2 separate regions of the Homo sapiens genome follow, and region 1 is linked to region 2. A link means that fine-mapping ties the variant in region 2 to the expression of a gene that starts in the linked region. Tissue or cell type: cultured neurons. Region 2 holds a variant in brackets; the other region holds the start of a gene. All regions are shown on one strand. Distances are between the middles of the regions.

Region 1 (9,055 bases), 55 kb before region 2:
CATTCCTTTTTTCCCCATTTTCTAAGGAAAATCTGAACTGTAGATTTTTAAAAACAAAAACAAACACTTTTTTTGGCCTGTAACCCACAATAAGGAATATGTTTTACAAGGTAATCTAACACATATACACATGAACAAATGTTTACTTAAAAACACATACCCTTACCATCTGTGATGTACGCTTTTATTTTCTATTCTTTTCTCTATTTTAAATAAAAAATGCTAGTCATAATGCAATAAATTAATTTCATGACCCATAGTGGTACCATAATCCACAGTTTAAAACACTGGTCTGGAGCAGATGCTTTGACTGCAAGGTAACCTACTCAAGAATGCTGTTAAAATGAGCACCATAAGCCTCTCTTCATACCTATTTTAGATGTTTTAAGTTTTTAACAGATTTTATATTCTTCCTTCATAAATACAGTAATTTTTTAAATGATGTTTTTCCAGATTAGTTCAGTATTAAAATACTTGACTAGTTTAACTCTGGTTCACATGCAGAGTATGTGTAGGTTCCAGAAAGATTAGGCTTTCATGAAACTTTATGGTCTTAAATAATTTTACATTAAAATACTTCAGAAGTGCATTTTTTGAGGCCCTTCCCTCTGTGTAATTCTTATGCATTACACAGTGAAACTTGTAGTATAATGTGGAACTGGTCACTTTGATTTAGTAACATAAGGTATAGATGCATGAAAACATAAACAGTAAGGCCAGGCACAGTGGCTCACGCCTGTAATCCCAACACTTTGGGAGGCCGAGGCCGGGGGATCACGAGGTCAGGAGATGGAGACCATCCTGGCTAACACGGTGAAACCCCATCTCTACTAAAAGTACAAAAAATTAGCCGGGCGTGGTGGTGGGCGCCTGTAGTCCCAGGTACTGGGGAGGCTGAGGCAGAAGCATGGCGTGAACCGGGAGGCGGAGCTTGCAGTGAGCCGAGATTGCACCACTGCACTCCAGCCTGGGTGACAGAGCAAGACTTCGTCTAAAAAAAAAAACAAAAAAAAACAAAAAAACCATAAACAATATAGGAGTGTCATAGGATTATAAATAGATGGCATGGATAATAAAATCTACAAGTTTAGAGAAAATTCGTAATTATAGGTGAGAAGTATTAATGAAAGGACAAAGCTTGTTCTTAAAGGATCAGAATAGGCCAAGATGAAAAAAGGCATCCATGGGAAAAGAACTGTTCATTTCTATAATTTTAACAAAATAGATAATCTATGTTGAATAAAATCCATAAATACTATTTCCAAATTTGATTAAGGTATTTACTTTGAAAACCTGAAACAGGAACATATTTACAGTGTTAAGTGATTTGATAATTTTGTAGTTCTGCCCTAAAAATCAATATCCTTAATTAACCCTTCATCAGTTTCTTAAGTCATCTGTCATCCTGAAAGCAAGTTAATTATTCTAAATGTTAAATAATTTTGGTAGTGTCTAATCTATAAAACATACATACACTACCAGTTTTTTTTCTACCTTTAACAAATTCGTTCCCATAAAAGACAATTTTATCACTAACAAAGGATAACTGGCAGGCATAAAATAGTGAGTAGAAAATGATTTTCTAAAATTTTTCATTTCTATCATTTTATAGCAAGTTGCATTTATCTTAAAGATAAATATTCTTCAATAAAAATAACAATTCAAATTTTTCAGTTGTAGAAATTCCTGGTGATGACATTTGATACAAATAGTTTATCCCTGAAATCCATTTAAAATTTTTAATCAAATCTTCTGCAATTCATTGATCAAGAATACATACGAGACTATCCAGGGATATTTCTAGCAAAGAAAACTGAGTCATGCAACTCAGTTCTTGAAGCAAGGAGGCAATTTAAAGTCAGAATAAAGGTTTACTGGGCTATCCTCAATGGACAAGTGGAGGATGTAAGTCACCTGATTTGGAACATAAAAGACTTAAAAATGTAAGAGCAAAACAAATGGATGGTATTGGGAAAAATAATTATTAAGAAAAAAAAACCCAAGACAATGAAATGAAGAAAACACTAATATTAGATTAACAGATTCTATGTAAGATCTCAACTTGGATACTTAAATTTATGCAAGCAAAATACCATTTGATTTAATAGAGAAATACTGTGATATGAATTGAAACAATTTCTTTGATTCTATAACCTGGAAAAAAAATGGTATAAACTATATACAAGTTAAAACCCTCAAAGGCAGTGTTGTTTTCATTCACTGCCATGCATGAGATGTCTAGCATAAAGCTAATTAGCGCCTAATAAGTCCTCAATAAGGGAAGAAACTAAAAAAACTTAAAAATTTTAAATTAAATGACACAATAATGCCAAGACTTTCCAAAGCAGATTGACTGTAGCAGCTGCAGTTACCTGGACATGCAAAATTACTAGTTTACCAGTAACATTTAAGAAAGCAGACAAGAAGATAATTGTGCTTCTATTAGCGAATTGAAATAATGGTATTTTGAAACTGAGTGAAAAACACATTCTGAGTCATCTGTATTAACTTAAAGCTGTTCTGAAGATTAATGGGAAAAATAATAATGAATAGACGATTGGATTTACTAAACAATGTTTGATTAATTGTATTAATGGTTATAAAATACCTATCAAGGCTGTCTTTTCTTGTCCAAAAATTCAATACATGAAATATGAAAATTTGTAATACCATAGCCAAAGCCTTATTGCATAGCTTCTAGCTTACTGATATATTTACTTATTTTAATTTAAAAAGCCTGTTTTTCCAGCCACTAGGAAATAAGATTTCTCACGTTTTATAGTACTCAAAAATCATGATTAAGTATATCTAATGCTAACCTAAGTGTAAGCAAACAGCAAACTAAATGGTGAATTAAAATATCCACACCAAGCCTGACCTCAGCTTTCATTGAACCTTTTCTTCAGAAGAAAACTAAAAATAAATTTCACTAGCATTTGCTTTGCTTGACAGCATAATTGAGTAGCAACCAAAGTAGCCACATGTGGTCCTTTATGTAAGGCCTTCTAGCCTCAGAAACACACACCTTTTGAATTAGCGTGCCTGGTACCCATTTGTGCCCAATAAATACTTGCTGAATGAACTTTTCCAATAGTGCTGGATTTGCTCTGAGCCAACCAAATTCTCACTTTTAATGTATTTTGAAAGACAGAGGACGACAAGATGAAGAATGCAGTTTGAGACTCAGAAGAGCAAACATAATCGGCCCAGTATGGATATGATCATTTGATGCACTGTCCTCGGGCATGCTCATTTACAGAAGCCTAAAAACAAATTTTATCCCTCATTTGTGGGTTTCTGGTGTTGTGGAGGGCTTTCCAATGTTTAGAAGCAATATATTTTTATAGAATTCTGTAATAAACGTGTTTTAAATCTTTTATAAAGCTCTCTGTAGCATATAAGTACATATTAAAGACAGAAATGGGGGAGCATCAAGGCCCTTATAATCGCATTCATTCCTTAACCACATACTACGCATCTACTGTGTGGCATTCTAGGCGGGGGCCGTAACACCAGTGCAGAAAAACACAACCTCTTGTCCTCTTAGAGCTTACATTGCACTGGGGAAGGAGAGATAAGAAGATAAACAAGTATGGATATGTAGACTGTCCAAAGGATAAAATGAGAAGGGGGCTAGGGAACTTTCAGTTTAAAAGTAGCCGCGGAAGCACCGAGTGACACGAGCAAAATCCTGAAGGTGAAGGAGCAAGCCCTGTGGACGACGCTCAGGGAAGAGTCCTACTCGCAAGGATGCCAGGGCAGGCCCGCCCCCACCCTCAACGGCGCGCGGGGACTTCTGCCGCAGTCAAGGCTTTGGCTCACTCCCCTCAAGACGGGAAGCCATTCGCAGGGCCTAGAGAAAAGGAGTGACAGGATCTTGGCCCCCTGAGTGGCCTGAGGCAAAAGGAATAATCTAAGCAAGTTTTCCTACTTACTTTTAGCGCACTGGTACACACACAAATACACAATACAATTCATATAACACGAATTTCGTCCCGGTTGAGTAAAATTCCGCTTACCTACTGCACTTTTTACCGAAAATAGCCCCTTTTTAATTTACACAAACTTAATAGAGAACGGTGGAACAATGGTTACTTCTTGTTTTACAATTTAAAAACTACAACAACCATAGTACTGTACGTATAATCACATATTGTATTCCAGCCTTGTCCAGCGCCTCAGTTTTCCGAACCTAAAGAGGAAAACGATGTTTGAAATCAGCTGGCCGCAGGCCCGCGGGTCGCCCGCAGTCACCGGTGGCTGAGTCGGGGCCGGCGGTTCTCCCCGCGCGCTCGGCTCCACCCACACCTAGAGGGGGGCGCCCGGGCAGCCGCGGGCGAGCTTCTCGCTCGCGCAGCGTCGCCTACAGGCCTTTATCCTGACCGTTAGAGAAGAACCCAAACCTCTGCCGACAAAAAGCAAAAGCAGCGGAGACCGCGTATTTCCAGAAATAAACGCATCATCACAAACACGATTCCAATTCAATCCAGCCGACAGTCGTCTTCACCTCCAAAGGTTGCGTTCTTATTCGCAGAAATAACACGCAGTCGGGCGTAAGGTCCCGGCTCTCAAAAGGCAAGGTGTACGATCCATCCATCCACCCGGCTGCAGGGACACCATTTAAAACGGGCATCATCGCCATCGAATCGCGGGCGTCCTCTGTGGGGCCGCCCGGAGATCGGCTCCCTAAAGCTAACGACGACCTGGGACAGCCAGCGCGGCCTCCAGCCGCCGCCGTCGGCGACCTGAGAGCCCGTCCGGGCCTGAGTGCCCCCCACGCTCACGACCACCACCGAACTCGGGCCCCGCTCCTGTCGGCCTCCAGGAAAATAAAGACAGAGGAGAGCCGGCCCGCCTGTGTCGCAGGGCAAACGTCGCTCTGAAGCATCGACAATACTGGCAACATCCACAGCCGCCCTGAGGGGACGGGCGTAGAGGAGAGCTGCCGCCTCCCGGCTGCTGGGCCCGGGTGCCGCGCGGCGCGGCCGAGGACGCGAGCCCAAGTGGCGGCAGCGGCGGCTGCGGCGGTGGCGGAAGTGGAGTGGGGAAGAGGGGGTGGTTGTTAGTGTTTGGCGCCGGCGGAGGGAGTCATTCCTGCAGCTGCACTTCCGGTCGGCATTTTGTTCTGAGAGGGAGAGACGGAACGAGAGAGAGACACACACAGGGCTCCTTCCCCCCGCCCTCCCCCCCCTCCCTCCGTCGGTACCGACTCACCCGACACCACCAAGCCGCAGGGAGGGACGCCCCCGCCGACAGGAGAATTGGTTCCCGGGCCCGCGGCGATGCCCCCCCGGTAGCTCGGGCCCGTGGTCGGGTGTTTGTGAGTGTTTCTATGTGGGAGAAGGAGGAGGAGGAGGAAGAAGAAGCAACGATTTGTCTTCTCGGCTGGTCTCCCCCCGGCTCTACATGTTCCCCGCACTGAGGAGACGGAAGAGGAGCCGTAGCCACCCCCCCTCCCGGCCCGGATTATAGTCTCTCGCCACAGCGGCCTCGGCCTCCCCTTGGATTCAGACGCCGATTCGCCCAGGTAAATTCCTGCTCTTTATTTCGGCGGCGGCGGCGGCGGCGCCGGCGCCAGGTCCTCAGCGTCTCTCCTCCTCGCTCCCCTCCCCGCCGTTTCCTTAGCGGCCCCAGGTCTCTTCCACAGGCGAGTCTAGAGTTCGCTCCTCTCTGGTGGCAGCCGCCTTGGGTAGCGGTGGTTTTGTACCCTCTCCCGGCCGGCTCCGGTGGCGGGGACTGGGCTCCTGCTGGGCGGCCGGGGAGGCGTAGGCCCGGCGGAGAGTGCAGGCCGCGGGCCAGCGGAATCTACTTGAGCTCGGGGATTAGGAGAGCTCCGGGCTGAGCGGAGCGACTGCTGGTCGGTGACAGGCCTCGCCCGGGAGTGGAGCCGTAGCTAGTGGGGAGGCGGAAACAATACAACTAACAGCAAATGTGCCCTGATCGTCCCCATATTTACAACTTTCCCGGTCCGGGAGTGGGGAACGTCCCAGTGAAACAAACAACCTCCCTTCTTCCCCCTGTGACCCCATGAAGGGAGGAAGTAGTTTCAGTTAGTGAGACAAACGTAAATACTCAGACGCGGATCCAGTGGTAATTCTTTCTCTTTCTAAAACTTGTTTGGACGTTGGAAAGTTCATAAAGACTCATTTTCTTTTTTAAAGAATTAAATCGTCCACATGAATATTTAATACAGAAAAACATACTGTGGTAGACACTGCACATCTCCCCCTCCCCAAGAGCTTTTATCTTGTTGTTTTGACAGTGTGTTGTTGCACATGGACTTTTTATTCAAAGACAAGTATAAAGTACTTGACAGGTTTACTCTGCCACTTTCTATTTGTATGCGTTATGTAAGGGCAGTTTTAAGCGACTATACGTAAAACACTCAGGTACTTCCTGACCAAAACGTGTAGGAGCATACAAAGAATTTTAAGTGTTCTGAGAATTGTGCTGAGATACGGGTAAAACCACTTTTCTTTTCTTTTTCCAAAAAAGAAATTAAGTTATACTTAAAATCCTTGGGAGGTTAAAAAATTGTAGAAGGTGCCATCCTTTTATGTCAGGGCAGTTCTTCTTGAGGTCCCAGGATTGTCATTGGCTGTTTGTGCCATGATGTTTGACTGTGTAATGAGAGAGGTGTCATTTTAATAGGTTAAATGTATCTGTAAATGCTGGAGAAAAATATCAGTTCTAACTTGACAAGTTCTAGTTCATGAGTAAGTTAAGTGTTTCGAGCTTGTTTATGGAGGCGTTCATAATGTAGGTTGGTATAAGGGGGAAACACCAATTTAAAATTCCTCAGTCAGGCAAATTGCTAGAAAAGTGTACCTGGGTTACACGTTTTGATATTTTGTTTCATATTCGCTGAAGGAAAACTTTCATTGGTTAAAATGAAGCAGCACTGCTCAGCGAAATCCCTTGTTTTACTAGTGTTTGTTACATTGGTTCATATTTTTTGTGTCATTAAATTATTGTCACTGTAGAATAAGTTATTTTGTGGAGGTTATTTTTGAGTTTAGCGTCCTGATTACAATAAATTGTTTCACATTTCCTGCAAACGTACGGATAAATGTTTAAAAGAATGAAGTTAATATAGCTGTCACGTACTAGGCATGTTTTTAATGCTATAAATCCGTGTAGTAGTCAGTAGCGTGTCCGTGATTTGTATTGGTCAGGGAGCAGTTTGAATTTTAAAAAGCCTGAAGCTCCTGCTGAGCCCCAATCCCGGCCTCCCTCCCTCCCACTAATCTCCCATTCCTGTCTTTGTGCTGCCTGCTCCTGTTAGACACTGTTTGCTACGGGGCCTCAGGCCTACTGCGGGTGGGGGGGTGTGCGAGTGGGGGGCATGCCAGGGAGGGAATGCAGACGGGAGGAATACTTCACATCTTAAGAAAGCAGAGGGTTTGTTTTTTTGGGGATGGAGGTGGTAAGGGCTTCATTATAAATGTTTAAAAGGCCTTCATATATTCCTGTGATTGTCTCTACAACTTTTATTTCAAGGGATAAACATATTTTTACTAAAGATAATAGAGGAGTTGTGCTTGCTTAATTTTCACGAACTGAAGCAACTTATTTTTAGAGGTTGTCTTATGCAGATGTTTGAATAAGTGTGTTAGAGATGGGTTTATGTGATTGATTCTTTTTTTTCCTGAGACTTTGGAATTGTTATAGTGAATTAGTTCTTCCCAACTTATTTTCCCAATTCTACATATTTAGTAATTTGTGAGTAATATAGGTTGTGTGATAGCTTTCATTATGATAGCATAAACATTTCTTTAAATTTAAAAATATGTTTTGTTTGGTCCAAACCAATTAAATACGTCATTTTTAAAGGAGAAAACATTGTGTAAAATTCAAATTGTAAAATTTAAACTTGAACTTTAAATCTCTGATAACCTAGTTGGAGAGAATAGTTTGTTTCCCTAAAGAGTGTAGAGTGTTCTGCTTCCCCTCTGTTGGTTGGAATATTCACTAGTGGCTAATCATCTATTTCCATTAAAAATTAAAATTCAGTGAAAGGAGAAATCAGAAGTGTTCCAGTAACCTTATAATCCTAGTTATATTATTTGGAGAAATATTTTCTCATACACCTAAAGGAAATTTCAACAATGTCGCTTATTGTTTCTCTTAACTCTGAAGAGTTGTCAATAACTTTTGTTACTTGAAAAGAGATTTCAAGTAAATAATGAAAGTAAATCAGAGTTGAACATTAAATAGATAATTTTCAATGTTTGAGAAGTGTATATAGGATGCTTCCTTTTTAAAGTTATTCAACAATTTGTTTACTAAAGTTATCTGAGAACATTTTTGAACCTGTTCTAGAGATCATTATAATATTTTCTGCTTTTAAGGAAAAGTTATACATTACTTGAAAAAAGAAAAACAGTCTACTTGAGATTCTTTTTAGGGATGTAAAGTGAAAGTTTTTACTATGGCAGTAAACTTGGTTCTTCATAGTAATCATTATTAAATTTCAAAAATATGAGCAAGCTATACCAATACAAAATTTTCTTTACTTGCAGCCGAAAAATGTATTTTCTAAGGCTTCTTCAACTAATTTCATATTTAATTTTTTGGTACCAATCCATCATCAAACTGTCATAGAAATATTTGAACATATCTGTGTTACATGTTTGAAATACCCCATTGTGGTATTTTTACTTTCTCAAAATAAGATGTAGTAATTAATAATATAAGAGTAAATAAAAACCAGGAGTTTGAGTTTTATTTAATTTCATTTAATCCTCCTTTCTGGTGCTTATTAGGAAAAGCATAATTTGGAAGAAATTCTAAAATTTTAAATTAAGATTTCAGTTTTATGTGAAGTGATTAGGGAGTGTGAGGTAAACAGTAATTCCTTTTAGAGAAATGTAACTTTAATTCTGTTTATCACATTTACTTGCCATAAAAATGAATGGGAAATAATTGACTAGGAACCTTTATAGAAGGCTGACAACTAACTGTTCAGTTGAACATGCTTATTTTAATATCCTGAGCGTACTAGGTTAGGTTTGGTGGTAATTTATGGTCTTATATAGCCTTTAAAAATTGTTTT
Region 2 (9,055 bases):
TAAGTGCCGCCTTGGTAGAGACAGCCAAAAGGCTCGATTCAGCGGAGACATCATGTGTAGCATCTGCATACAGCATCATCAGCATGGCTTTTTCATGGTCATGTGATATTTAACATAGTGGATCAGGGTTTCCAAAAAGTATTGTCAACATGCTTATTTGAAAGCTGTAAGATTTCTTATCACCTAGCCCCTTTCTGCTGCATTTTATTCACCATGCATGTCACAAAGGTCAGCCCAGATTCAAAGGAGAGGAATTAGCCATTACCTCAATATGAGGACTAGCAAATAATTTGTGGTTTTTATTTTTTATTTTTGTGGGTACATAGTAAGTATATATATTTATGGGGTATGTGAGATATTTTGGTATAGGCATGCCATGAGTACTAATCATGTGGTTTTTAATCTGCCACATTGAATTAAACCAATTATTTTAGATTGTGTAAATTCAAGTTGAAAAAAATTGGTAATAGGGCAAATGGTTTCATGTATTTTTTTACCGGGAACAAATTTAAACAGTTATTAGAATCAGAGCACCTATAATGGGAGTCAATTTTTCCTGAAGCTGAACCAAAATGTTTATTGGTTTGATTTGAAAGGAGAAGTTGGTTTTGTTGACGTTAGAACTATAAACACTTTTTCCTATAAATATGTATATTCTCCCTCTAATATTTGCTTTATGATTAACAGTGTACTATCATCTGCTTTTGTATCACGACTTGAGTTCAAGAGTTGTAGGTGTATGAGATCTGAGAAAAGAAAGAATCCTCCACTCCATTTCATTTAATGTTATATTCTCACCAATTTATATAACACTTACATATTATAAGTATTGTTTTCTCAAGGAGGATACAGGCATATTTTACTGAGAGGAGAAAAGAATATCAAGGCGGATTTTTGGTTTAAAATGTTATTCATATTCTAAACTTGTAGATCATTATAAGGATTTTGCCTTTGCTCTGAAAAAGTCATTGAAGGATTTCAAAAAGAGTGACATGATCCAACCTGTATTTTAATAGAATCTCTGATTGCTATGTTTAACTGCCAAGGAGTGCAAGAGTGAAAAAGACCAATTAAGAGTCTGGGAAGGGAGCATGGTGGCTTGGAAATGGTCGAATTTTGGATATATTTTGAAGGTAGAGACTCACGATCCAAAAGTTGTGTAAAAAAGATAGGAGTCAAGGATAATAAGATTTTTGGCCAAAGGAACTGGACAAATGAGTTGTCTTTAATCAAAATTAGGAGTATTGTAGAAGAAGCACGAAGAACAGTATAAGGAATTTATTTTGGAAGTAAGTTTGAGATGGTTGTTAGACATCCAAATGGAGATATCAAATAGGCAGTTGGATATACCAGTCTGGAGTTCAGGAGAGAGGTCCAGGCTGGAGTCTTTAATATATATAGTGTTTAAAATCCTTGAGACATGGAAATCACCAAGGGAGAATAAAGTGGTAAAGGAGACGGGTTTCGCCATGTTGGCCAGGCTAGTCTCAAAATCCTGGCCTCAGGTGATCCACCTGCCTCAGCCTCCCGAAGTAGATTACAGCCATGAGCCACCATGCCCGGCTGCAGTGATTTTTTTTTTTTAAATTTTCTACCACTTTCTTTCAATAAAACCATACTCGATGCACAAAAAGAGCAGGAAAGTCAGGAGACTGGGAAGCTTTGCAACTAACTTTGAATGTGTGGTCTTGAACACGTAATTTCATCTTTTTCTTATCTGTAAAACGAAGAGATTGGACTAGATTATTTGTAAGATGCCTTCCTACTTTAATATATCAGTGAATCTTTTCAAAACAGGGTAATTATATTGAATGTAACTGTCATCCTAGGGTAAGTGAAGTAGTCTTTAACTACATGCAGGTGACAGTTTGTAAGCTTGCTTAAAAACATGATTGCTTTGCCTATTCTTCTCAAGAAATTTTAGTCAAGTGCAAGTTAGAGCTAATTAATACAACCAAATCACAGTGTTTGTTTTTGCATTCCCAGAAATTGTTAGTACTGTATATGATCAGTATGTACAATAAATGTTTTTACTAACTAAAAAAATTTCTTAAGGAAAAATATATTGACCTAAGGAGAAATGTTTAGAGCTAGATAAAGGAGATTAATATCTCTAGATGCAATTTTACTTTACAACGTTATTGAGGTATGATCCGCTTAATATAAAGTTCACCTGTTTAAGTATACAATTTAATGGTTTCTAGTTTTAGAACCTTTTCATCAGTCCCCAAATTTTCCTCAAGCCTATTTGCAGTGAGTTCCCAACTCCCACAGCCCTCTCCAGTCCTGGCAACTACTGATCTGCTCTTTGTTTCTATAAATTTTTCTGGACATTTCATCTAAAAAGAATTATATGTAGTATTTTGCATCTGGCTTCTTTCACTTTGCATGTTTTGAGGTTCATTTATGACATAACGTATCAGTATTTTGTTCTTTTTTATTGCTGAATGGTAGTTCATTGTATTATGATATTTTGTTTGTCTATACACTAGTTGGTAGATACTTATATAATTTCCAGTTTTTTACTTTTATGAGTAATACTTTTTTGAGCATTCATGGAGAAATCTTTGTGTAGACATACGTTTTTATTTATCTTGGATACATTCCTAAGAATGGAATTGCTGGGTCATATGATAATTAACTTTTTAAGAAACAGCCAAACTGTATTCCAGTGTGGCTGTATCATTTTACATTTCTACCAGCAGTGTGTAAGGGTTCAAGTTTCTCTACATCTTCACCAACAGTTAATAGTGTCTTTTTTTATAACATTATGACAGTTTAATGGATGTGTCATGGTATCATTGTGGTTTCAGTGAGAATATACCTAATGACTAATGATACTGAGCACTTTTTTTTATATGTTTATAAGCCATTCACATGTGTTCTTTGGTGAAGTGATATTGAGCACTTTTTTTTGTATATTTATAAGCCATTCATATGTGTTCTTTGGTGAAGTGTCTTAAGTAAGTTCTTTGCCCATTTTCAAAGTTGTGTTATCTTCTTGTTCACTAGTGAGAGTTCATTTAAATTCTGAATACAAGAGCTTCATCAGATTTGTGATTTGGCAATATTTTCTCCCAGTCTATGGCTTGTCTTTTCATTTTCTTATTGATATCATTTGAACTATGAAAATTGTTAACTTTAATGAAATCCAGTTTATCAGTTTTATCTTTTATGGCTCATGTTTTTGTTATCTAAGAACTCTGCCTTGTTTTTGTCATCTAAGAACTCTGCCTGACCTAAGGTCACAGATGTTTTCTCCTATATTTTCCTTTAGATGGTTTATAGTTTAAGCTCATACATTTAGGTATTTGATCCATTTGAATTAATTTTTGTGTATGGTATAAGTTAATGGTCTGTTTTTAAATTTATTTTTGCATGTAAATGTCCAGTTATCTAAAAATCATTTGTTGACAAGACTGTCTTTTATTCCATTGAATTTTGTGGGCATCTTTGTGAAAAATCTAACATAAATACAAAGATTTATTTCTGGACTCTAGATTCTCTTCATTGATCAATCCGTATACCTGTCCTTATATTAATAGCACACAATCTTGATTACTGTAGCTTCATAGTAAGTTTTGAAATTGGGTAGTATAAGTTCTCCAACTTTTTTCTTCACTAAATTATTTTGGCTATTCTAGATCCTTTGTATTTTCCTATAAAGTTAGGATCAGCTTATTTCTATGGAAAAAAAACAGCTGGGATTTTGAAAAAGATTATGTTGAATCTATAGATCAATTTGAAGAGAATTACCATATTAACAATTTTGAGTCTTCTAATTTATGAGCATGGAATGTTTTAGATCTTTTTGGCTCAGCAGTGTCTTATAACAGTGTGCAAATACAAATCTTATACTGATTTTTAAAAATTTATTCCCAAATATTCTTCATGGTCCTAGTTTGAATGGAATTGTTTTCTTAATTTCATTTTTGCATTTTTGCTAGAATATAGAAATACAACTGATTTTTGTATGTTGATTTTCTATCTTGTGATCTAGCTGAGCTTTTTTTTGATTCTAGTTGTTCGTTGGTGGTTTCTTAGGATTTTCTACATACTGGACAGTGTCATCTGATAATGCAGTTTCATTTCTTCCTGTCTAATCTGAATGCATTTAATATCTTTTTAAGTTTTTTTCTTAAAATGTGTTACTTTTTGGTGTTTTGCTGTACTAACTAAAACCTACAGGACAATATTCAGTGGAAGGAATAAGAACAGGCATTTTTGTTTTTCTCCTGATAGGGAAGTTAGCTGTAGAATTTTCATAGATGCTCTTTATTAGGTTGAAGAAGAGCCTTTTTATTTCTAATTTTTGAGAGTTTTAAAAAATAGTGGTTGTTGGATTTTGTCAAGTGTTTTTCTGTGTCTTTCAAAATGGTCATGTAGCTTTAGTTGCTATTTCTATTAATAAGATGTTTTACATTAATTTATTTTTAGATGGTTAACCACCCTTGCATTCACAGGATAAATCCCATTTGGTCATAATGTGTAGTCATTTTTATATGTTGATGAATTTGGTTTGCCAGTTTTTAAAAAATAATTTTTGTATGTGTGTTCATGAGGGATATTGGTCTGTAGTTTTCTTGCATTGTCTCTGTCTGGCTTTGGTGATACCAGACTCAGCTGGGAAATATTCTCTAGTTTATAAAACAGTTTATAAAAGTTTGCTATTCTTTCTTATATATTTCATAAAAATCATTGGTGAGATCGTCTGTGCCTAGGCTTTCTTAGTGTGAAGATTTTTAATAAGTAGTTCAGTTTTCTTATTTGTTAGGGATCTATTCAGAGTTTCTATTTCTTGTTGAGTCTGTTCTGGTAATTTGTCTTTTGAAGAATTTCCTTTTTTTTTAATATAAGTTGTGTAATTTGTTGGCTTAAAGTTAATATTCCCTTTTAATTCTTTCTTTTTTTATTTTTTTGAAAAGGAGTCTCACTCTGTCACCCAGGCTGGAGTGCAGTGGTGTGATCTCGGCTCACTGCAGCCTCTGCCTCCTAGGCTCAAGTGATCTTCCCACCTAACCCTCCTGAGAAACTAAGACCACAGGTGCATGCCACCATGCCTGGCTAATTTTTGTATTTTCTATAGAGACGAGGTTTTTCCTTGTTGCCCAGGTTGCTCTCGAACTCCTGGACTCAAATGATCTGCCCACCTTGGCCTGGAAAGTGCTGGGATTATAGGCATGAGCCATCACACCGGGCCTTCCCTTTTAATTTCTAAAGTATTGGTAGTGATTTCCTCTCCTTCATTTCTGATTTTGGTAATTTGTGTCTGTTCTCTCTTACTTTCCTGATCATTCTATTTAAGACATTGTCAATTTTGTTGATTATTTTTTAAGAACTAATTTTTGAATTCATTCGTATGTCTCTG[GTT/G]TTTTTTTTTTTTGTTTATTTTTACTTTTATCTTTATTTTTTTCTTCTTCCTGTTTTTGATTTTGTTTACACTTTTTCTAGTTTCTTAAGGTATGGAAGCATAAATACTGATTCGAGGCTGTTCTTTCTAATATGGGCATTTAAAGCTATAAATATTCCTATAAAACTGCTTTAGCTGTATCCCATGAAGTTTAATATGTTGTGATTTCATTTTCATGCAGTTTTAAGTATTTAATTTCTCTCATGATTTCTTCTTTGACCCATTGATTTTCTCAGATTTCTTTCGGTTATGGGTTTTAATTTTATTCTTTTGTTGTCAGGGAACACCCTTTATATGATTTGTTGTAAATTTAATGAGATTTATTTCATGGTCCAGCATGTGATCAATTTTGGAGAATGTTCTTGTATGCTTAAAAGGCATTGAGTATTCTGTGGTCTTTGGGTGGAGTGTTCTGTAAACTTAAGTTAGGTCATTTTGGCTGATAGTGTTGCTGAAGTTTTTTACATCATTGTTAATTTTCTCTCTAGTTATATTTATCATTCAGTTCTGTCGGTTTGTGCTTCATATATGTGGCAACTTCGTTGTTAGGTATGAATACATGTATAAACGTTATATCTTCCTTATGTACTGACTCTATCATTATGAAATATCCCTCTTTTTCTTTATTACTATTTATCTTCAAGTCTGTTTCATCTGCTGTTAATAGCCATTCCAGCTTTTTTATTGTTTCTGTTTGTATGGAGTATATTTTCTATTATTTTACTTTCAACCTATTTGTATCTTTGAATCAAAGAGTGTCTTTTGTAGAAGTATATAATTGGGTCTTGTTATTTGAACCAATATGATAGTTTTTGGCTTTTGATTGTCATATTTAGCCTATTCCCATTTAATGTGATTTTTGATATGGGTGAATTTACTTATGCCATTCTTCCTTTACTGCCTTCTTTTGTGTTAAATATTCTTTTAGTGTACTATTTAAATTCCTCTGCTGTTTTTTTTTTTTTTTTTTTTTTTTTAAAGAACAGGATCTCATTCTGTTGCCCAGGCTGAAGTGTATTGGCTATTCACAACTGCCATCATAGCATACTACAGACTCACACTCTCTGCTCAAGTGATCCTTTCACTTCAGCCTTGTGAGTAGCTGGGAGTACAGGCATATAGGAGTACATTGGAGTACAGGTGTACGCTACTGCATGCAGCTCTCTTGATTTTTTTTAAAACAACTTTTTAGAGTTATTTCCTTGGAGGTTACTGTAGGGATTACAATATGCTTCTTAATTTATCACAATCTACTTGTATAGTTAAATTTTTATTCCAGTATAGTAGTAGAAAAACTCTTCCTTTAATAAAGTTTAAAGTAGATAAGTTTTTAAAAACATACTGTTTTTTAAAAATGTACTGTTTTTAAAATCCTAATTTTTATACTTAGTTATTTTTAGCAGTGTCATATTGAATTCTGTTACGAGTTTCATGGTTACTTATAATAACCAGTTTCCTCATTACATAGTAGAATGGTATTTTTCCAATTTGAACTCTTAATTTTAAATTTTCTTCTACCTTTAAAATTCTGTGATTCTGTTTGGTCAAAAGGGTCTGTGGAAATAATACTTGATATGTTTATATAGTGGTTATTCAAAACTTACTCATATATTATTTGCTGACATCTGATGAGATATAGTTCTAGAGACATTTTTTATTTCTGGACTTTAGTCTTGGATGGATGAAAATTTGATCCGATTTCAGGAAAGAAAAGGATTATAAATTAGAATCCATAACATGGTAAAAGAAGTTTGTTTTTAATGTCAATCTAATGGTAATTTTTGATCATTTAATTTTTTAATTTAATTAAATCTAAGGCTGAGCAGATTTTTCTGTATGGTTTCAGACACCAGTAGTGAAAATTACCCAATTCCATTTAATTCGGTAGCAGTAAGATACCAGTTGGCTTTTATTGATTAATCTTCCTTGCTCCTTCATCAACTATACCATATTTATATTTTATAAGTAAAAAGTTACTCATATTGCTAGCTTTTTGTGGATCTGTTTTGGATTTTATTCTCAATTTTCCCAAGGATTTTTACATTTTCAGTCCATGTAAAACTTCAACTCTTATTTTTCTTAATAAGAGTATGGGGGGGTGGGCAGTTTCTATAATTAACTGATAGGTCTCTGTTAAAATGAGGTTCTCTTTCTAATAAAAAACAAATGTGACGTGGCTAATGTAAGTTTAACATGTAAAGATCATGGTATTAAGATCACTTGATTTATGTTTGTATATGACCACCTGGTGTCATCATTTTAACTACATGAACTTGCTCAGCATCCAGATTTCACACTCTTTAACTTAGTGTTTGATTGTGTAAGACGTTGTGTTTTTTATCTAATACATTCTCTAGCAGTGTTATATTTTATTTCAACCTGGTAACCATATGACCAGCATTGTGCTAGGTATTATGGAAAGATTTCAAAAATTAATTTTTAAAAATTAATGAGACAAGATTCTGTACCTAAGGTGCCAGTGAAATGATTTGATAGAATGTAATTATGCATGACTGGATGCTGACTTTGTGTGCATCTAATACAGAAATTCATTAAAGGAAAAGATTGTAAAGTAAAATGGTAGGTAGAGGATGGTTTCCAGGAAGAGTTGGAACTTGAAGGATGGTAAGTGAAATGATAGAGGAATAGAGGATAGATAGATTTTTGTCTAGGTGTCATGATAAAATAGTAACATAGACAGTCCTTGATTTACAGTGGGTCAACTTTACAGTTTAGATTACTAATGAATGGGAGCAATGGTAGAAATTATAAGATTACAGATAGTGGCTTTTCATTTTAGAAATATTTGAGCACTAACATTTTAAGGGGAAATGATTGTCACATTGACACATTCATACATTGGTACTGTAAGAATTTGTAGTGCCAAAAAAGAATCATGAATGAATTCCCACATAATGAAGCTATGAAGAACTTTCAGAGGCCATGGAAATAAATGAATTTTTGAAGAGCTATAGGTAGACCTAAGTAGCTAGAGTTAAGAAATTATCAAAGATAATGAACCACTGGAGAAAGTGGAGTCAGTAGAGTCAATCTAAGGTACAAGAAAGAAGATTGAGTCACAGAAACCAAAGAATGAGTTACCAGATAGAAGGACTCACACTCACCATGCGCGTTGAATGTTGCAATACTGTTTCTCTTCTCTTCAGTGTCCCTCTTTTCCTCCTTGTAGCTTAAATTCAAAGGTCATTTAATCATTTCCTTGCATACAAATACCTTCAGTTCCTTCGCTCCTCTCTGTTTTGGCAAAACCACAGCTTTGGTTAAATCTCACCCTTGCAGCTAAGTGGGACTGGAAAATAATTCAAAAAACATAATGACTGGTCTCACTTTAAAGGCAGTGGGCTCTTAATGTTACCCAGCAATTGTACCACACTTCTTTGATCCATTCACTCTCCTAGATGATTGTTTCATTCTTTTTCCTCTCCTGAAAACCTCCAACATCTCTTCTTCATCAAGGCAATCAGAAAAGTTTTCACAAGTACCTGACATCACATTTGTCCTCCTATTCTTTGTTAAACCTACTCTAAACAGGTTTCTGCTCTTCTGTCCCACCGTTTTCAAAATGGGTCTTCTCTAAGTCACCAGTAACTTGCATCAAGTCTAGTGATCAGTTCTCAGACTTCA

Alleles and levels. Positions count from the first base shown, and alleles are read on the strand shown. Sizes are in standard deviations (SD) of each study's normalised expression.
For the expression in cultured neurons of the gene that starts at base 5,043 in region 1, GTT is the low allele of the variant in region 2 and G is the other (moderate effect, 0.57 SD a copy in Aygun 2021).

What was found.
Region 1: it holds the start of NIPBL-DT, and the variant in region 2 is fine-mapped to the expression of NIPBL-DT in cultured neurons (Aygun 2021, PIP 0.95).

What each region holds. Positions count from the first base shown.
Region 1 is chr5:36,871,652-36,880,706 of GRCh38, forward strand. It overlaps NIPBL-DT (NIPBL divergent transcript), which reads right to left and starts at 5,043. Exons shown (of 1, transcript NR_046262.1): 1 at 1-5,043. NIPBL (NIPBL cohesin loading factor) reads left to right here and starts at 5,118. Exons shown (of 47, transcript NM_133433.4): 1 at 5,118-5,527. RefSeq lists an enhancer at 4,414-4,463 and silencers at 4,874-4,983, 5,624-5,743.
Region 2 is chr5:36,926,417-36,935,471 of GRCh38, forward strand. All of the region lies in intron 1 of NIPBL (NIPBL cohesin loading factor), which reads left to right. Among named protein-coding and RNA genes, the nearest start is that of NIPBL, 54 kb to the left of the region's middle. The variant GTT/G (reference allele first, on the strand shown) is at 5,369.